2 separate regions of the Homo sapiens genome follow, and region 2 is linked to region 1. Evidence: fine-mapped expression QTL. A gene starts in region 1. The other region holds a variant in brackets. All regions are shown on one strand. Distances are from middle to middle. Region 1 holds the start of MAPKAPK5 (MAPK activated protein kinase 5). Region 2 has its middle 100 kb from the start of PTPN11.

What was found. PIP is the estimated chance that this variant, and not a neighbour inherited with it, causes the effect.
Region 2: its variant is the best candidate, but not a certain one, in a credible set for the expression of MAPKAPK5 in tibial artery (GTEx, PIP 0.65).

Annotation. Positions count from the first base shown.
Region 1 is chr12:111,841,099-111,843,997 of GRCh38, reverse strand. It overlaps MAPKAPK5 (MAPK activated protein kinase 5), which reads right to left and starts at 1,770. Exons shown (of 14, transcript NM_003668.4): 1 at 1,229-1,770. The coding sequence starts at 1,264. MAPKAPK5-AS1 (MAPKAPK5 antisense RNA 1) reads left to right here and starts at 993. Exons shown (of 2, transcript NR_015404.2): 1 at 993-2,671. RefSeq lists enhancers at 1,085-1,184, 1,915-2,194 and silencers at 1,275-1,624, 1,705-1,884.
Region 2 is chr12:112,518,658-112,521,556 of GRCh38, reverse strand. No RefSeq gene overlaps it. Among named protein-coding and RNA genes, the nearest start is that of PTPN11, 100 kb to the right of the region's middle. The variant C/T (reference allele first, on the strand shown) is at 1,766.

The DNA of each region.
Region 1 (2,899 bases):
ACAAACAAAAGAAAAAATTAGCAGGGCGTGGTGGGTGGGCGCCTGTAATCCCAGCTACTCGGGAGGCTGAGGCAGGAGAATGGCGTGAACCCAGGAGGCGGAACTTGCAGTGAGCCAAGATCGGGCCACTGCACTCCAGCCTGGGCGACAGAGTGAGACTCCGTCTCAAAAACAAACAAACAGACAAAAAACCTGGTCTTCCTTAATGTATATGTTATATGTTGATGCCTCCTTTAAAGGGTTAAGTTTCTTTGGAATGACTTGATGATTTTGAGAAACTATATACACCACCTAAAGAATTGGTAGAAATGTAAATTCTTAATCATTACTAGTAACTGTCTTGAAGGGGAAAATAACCCCAAGCTGCCAATAGATGCCTGTCCTTCAAGATAAAATGAAATTATTCAATGCACTGGGCTGACTTAACACTACAAATAAGTAAATAATACATCAAACTTTAAGCGTCAATGTTTAATTTTCATAAGACTAATTTCTTAGCTACAGCTGTCAAGACAGATAACTGGCCCTGAGTGGGCAAAATGTGCCTTTAAAAAAAAAAAAAGTTAAAAACAGGTTTTAGAAAACTTATTTTATTTGTGTAATTTTCGAACACACATTTGCTTTTCTTTTGGTTTAAGTGCAGTTAAGTCACAGGAACTGTTAACTTTTCCTAAGTAAACTCAATGCTTCCTAGGAGAAAGAAGAGGAAAAAGAAAAAGGGGAGAATACACGGAAAAGTGAGGACAACCTATTCCCCAAAGGACAGGTTTTGTACGGCGAACCACCTTTTTCCAACTGCAGATTTCCAGAAGGCTGATTTCAAACAAATCGGGAGGGATGGATAAATTCCAACTCTCCAAGTTCTGTAGACCATCCGGAAGCAAATGCTGGCGGCCTTGGGGAGTGATCGAAACGTGTAGTAGTAGTAGTAGGGCTCTCTTCGTCCCATTCATTGACACTTAATAGTGTCTCCAGGCCACTCACCTCTGTTCCAGCTGAGCACAAATCACACTCACCAGGGAAGCTGGCGGGAGTCGGACACACACCTACACCCACACCCATAACCCTTGGCCCCAGGGCTGTAAAGCGCGATCCACGGAATCCGGGGGAGGCCGAAACCCGGTAGTCGATGGAACCTCTCACTGCAAAATCTCCCTGCTTTTTGAGGCTAGAGCCGAGAAGAACGCCACAGGACAACGCGGGGGAAGAGGGGGCACCTCCCCCTTACCTTGATGGCTTTGTCCATGTCGCTCTCCTCCGACATACTCAGTGGGGCCCCCACAGCCGGGAGAGGCGGAGGCTGCTCAGCAGCCCTGTCCCCGCGCGGCCGAGGGAGCAAAGGGCTCGGCACTCGGGCCCCTGGGCCTCGTGGCGACGGGCAGCAGCCGCCCCTCGGGACCGGTGGGGATGAGGACCCCGGCGCCGGCTCTGCTTCGGCGGGCGGCTCTAGGCTGGCGGCAGCAGCAGCGGCGGAGGCGGCGGCCCCTGGGGACAGGTCTTTGTGCTGGGCCCCACGCGGCCGCCTCCTAGCCTCATCCCCAGCTGGGGAGGCAGGCTCCTGGGGTAGGGCGAGGCGGGGAGGGCCTCGACCCGGGGCGCCGTGCAAGGGCCTCGCGGGGCCGCCGCTTAGACCTGGGCTCGCCAGGTCCTAAAGAAGAGCCTGCGCCTCCGCCTCCGCCGCCTGCACCGCCGCGAAGCCGAAGCCGAAGCCGAAGCAGAGCTCGGCGCCGCTGCTCCCGCCGCCGCCTCAGCGCCACACATCGCCGGGACACCCGCGCCGGGCAGCCCCGCCGGCCGCCCTCACGCACGCGCTGTGCCCCGCGGGAGCTCCAGGCCGCCCCTCCTGCCGCCCAGCTTCGTGACTCCACGGCCCCACGCGCCCCTTGCTGCCTTCCGCTGGGGTTTCCGAGCCGCCCCCGAACCGCGCACCCGACTTGCAGGCGTCCGCCTGGGCCTCCCTAAGACACGCCGCATACAGGACAGGCCCCTGGGCCTTCCGCGGCGATGGCGCTGCGCTAATGACGTCATAGGCCCGGACTCGCGTGAGTGCGCGTGCGTTGGGGCCTCAGCCTTTATCTCCACTCTGCGGAGATTCACGCCTGGAAAACGCTCTTCTGAGAGGATCTGTGGAGGTCAACCCAGGAGAGAGAAGACAGGACTGAAGCACTGAAAGGGTCCTGCCGTTAAGGGCGCAGGATTGTATAGAATATATAATAGCAGTAGCAGCTCTGTTTACGGAGCATTAACCTTACGTGGAGTTATTTCCTGCATTTCCTCCTTTCGTCTTTACAAGGTAGCCGTTTGGCGTCGTGAGGTATGGATGTTCCCATCCCTAATTTGCAAAATAGGTAACTGAGGCTCAGGAGAGCTAGACTAGTTTGTGCACAGCCGAGAAGTGGTCAAGCTAGAATGGGACCCCAGGTTTGTGCTCCCTACTCTCCACCGATAACCTATCAAAGGGCTTTGCAAGAGCTTTTGACTAATCGTCTGTCAATGGTTCTTCATTCACGTATTAATTGCACATCAGTATGTGCCAAATCTACTAGACATTGGAGAAACAGTAGGAACAACACATGGTACCGGCACATGGATCTTTCAGGAAAACGAAGTAGGTAATAAACAGGAAAAAGCCCGAGTCTGATGCTAAGAAGAACATAAACAGGATGCTGAGGTAAGAGAATAACTGGATGTGGGGACTTCTTCGTATTAGATGATTAAGGAAGGAATCTCAGGAGGTAACATTTAAGCTGAGACCCCTGAGGAATGAGAAAGGGCTGGCTATTGGAAATCCAAGGAAAGATTTCTGGGCAGATGGGTAGAAATTTTAAGGTGGAAATAAGCTAAATATGTTCAAGAATCAGCAAGAAGGTCATTGTAGCTGGAGTAGATCGAGTAGGAG
Region 2 (2,899 bases), 680 kb before region 1:
GTGCGGTGGCTGACGCCTGTAATCCCAGCACTCTGGGAGGCCAAGGCAGGTGGATCGCTTGAGCTCAGGAGTTCAAAACAAGCCTGGGCAACATAGCAAGACCCTCATCTCTACAAAAAATTCAAAAATTAGCCGAGCGTGGTGGTGTGTGCCTGTAGTTCCAGCTACTCAGGAGGCTGAGACAGGAGGATGGCTTGAGCCCAGGAGGCGGAGATTGCAGTAAGCTAAGATCCCACCACTGTACTCCAGCCTAAGCAACAGAGCGAGACCCTGCCTCAAAAACAGGCCATGCGTGGTGGCTCATGCCTATAATCTCAATACTTTGGGAGGCCAAGAAGGGCAGATCACCTGAGGTCAGGAGTTTGAGACCAGCCTGGACAACATGGTGAAACCCTGTCTCTACTAAAAATACAAAAATTAGCCAAACGTGGTGGCAGGTGCCTGTAATCCCAGCTACTTGGGAGGCTGAGGCACGAGAATCACTTGAACCCGGGAGGCAGAGGTTGCAGTGAGCTGAGATCGTGCCACTGCAGTCCAGCCTAGGCGACAGAGCTAATCTCAGTCTCAAAAAAAAAAAAAAAAAAAACCAACAATTGTTCCCATGATGTCTATTAGCTCATTTAATCCTCACAGTGGCATGGGCAGTACGGTACAATTGTCAGCCACATTCTTCAGTGAGGAAACTGAGGCTCTAGAAGCTTAAGTTACCAAAATCACACAGGCACGACTCCTAACCAGCTCTTGACTCTCAGCCTTCCCCCACTCTCAACTCTTTAAAAATCACCCTCTCCAAAATGGAAGCACTTCCCCCAATTATCCAAGGCAGAGGTGATAATCAATCTATCTCTCTTCCCAAGATTAAAAGCCATTAGCAAATAATAACATGTTTGCCTCTCCTGTGTGTGTTTGAATTAAGTTTTCATTCCATACCAGGGAGAAAATCTAACTGAGGACTTCCAATACTAATAATAGACTGCAATAAAAGTAAAAGGTTTTTGCTTAACAATTACCTCTTGGAAGAGCTATCTAAACCCTAATGCAATCTGTGAATATTGTGCACTGATTCTCCCTGCTATGCGTTACCAACTGGTAAATTCATACTGAGAGGTGACAGCATGCTGGCAGCCCTTAACAGCCCTCGCTCGCTCTAGGCGCCTCCTCTGCCTGGGCTCCCATTTTGGCGGCACTTGAGGAGCCCTTCAGCCCGCCACTGCACTGTGGGAGCCCCTTTCTGGGCTGGCCAAGGCCGGAGCCGGCTCCCTCAGCTTGCGGGGAGGTGTGGAGGGAGAGGCGCGGGCAGGAACCGGGGCTGTGCGCGGTGCTTGCGGGCCAGCGCGAGTTCCTGGTGGGCGTGGGCTCAGCGGACCCCACACTTGGAGCGGCAGGCCGGCCCCACCGGCCCCGGGCAGTGAGGGGCTTAGCACCTGGGCCAGCAGCTGCTGTGCTCAATTTCTCGCAGGGCCTTAGCTGCCTTCCCGTGGAGCAGGGCTTGGGACCTGCAGCCCGCCATGCCTGAGCCTCCCCCCACCTCCATAGGCTCCTGTGCGGCCAGAGCCTCGCCTACGAGCACCGCCCTCTGCTCCAGGGTGCCCAGTCCCATCGACCACCCAAGGGCTGAGGAGTGCAGTCGCACTGCATGGGACTGGCAGGCAGCTCCACCTGCAGCCCTGGTGCAGGATCTACTGGGTGAAGCCAGCTGGGCTCCTGAGTCTGGTGGGGACGTGGAGAACCTTTGTGTCTAACTCAGGGATTATAAATACACCAA[C/T]TGGCACTCTGTATCTAGCTCAAGGTTTGTAAACACACCAATCAGCACCCTGTGTCTAGCTCTGGGTTTGTGAATGCACCAATCGACACTCTGTATCTAGCTACTCTGGTGGGGACTTGGAGAACCTTTGTGTCCACACTCTGTATCTAGCTAATCTGGGGGGGACTTGGAGAACCTTTGTGTCTAGCTCAGGGATTGTAAACGCACCAATCAGTGCCCTGGCAAAACAGACCACTCCGCTCTACCAATCAGCAGGATGTGGGTGGGGCCAGATAAGAGAATAAAAGCAGGCTGCCCGAGCCAGCAGTGGCAACCCACTGGGGTCCTCTTCCACACTGTGGAAGCTTTGTTCTTTTGCTCTTTGCAATAAATCTTGCTACTGCTCACTCTTTGGGTCCACACTGCCTTTATGAGCTGAAACACTCACCGCGAAGGTCTGCAGCTTCACTTCTGAAGCCAGCGAGACCACGAGCCCACCAGCCCACCGGGAGGAAGGAACAACTCCAGACGCGCGGCCTTAAGAGCTGTAACATTCACCGTGAAAGTCTGCAGCTTCACTCCTGAGCCAGTGAGACCACGAACCCACCAGAAGGAAGAAACTGAACACATCCGAACGTCAGAAGGAACAAACTCCGGACACGCCGCCTTTAAGAACTGTAACACTCATCGCGAGGGTCCGCAGCTTCATTCTTGAAGTCAGTGAGAACAAGAACCCACCAATTCCGGACACAATACGACCCCAGCAACAGGCTATGTCAAAAGCCTGAAAGACATTCCCTAGCCCCATAGGAAAAACACAGCTGTTTACTGAGCACCCACTATGTGCCAGGCCATCCATTAATATTAAACTTCTCAACAACCCTTCCCAACAAAGTAGGAAAAGTAGCTCCATTTTTCTAAAGAGGATGGGCAGACCGAAGGCCTTTACTGACAAGCCCAAGGTCGCACAGCTAGTAAATGGCAAAACCAGGAAAGTAACCCAAGCCTGTAAAGTTCCAAAACTCCGATTTTCCTCCTAAATCAACATGCCTAGAACAGAATGCTCCATCTGCACCTGCAGCCTAAAACGCAGAGGTATTTATCGTCCTCAACCAAAACGCCTGTTTTAACTTACCCTAAGCAGAAACCTGATGG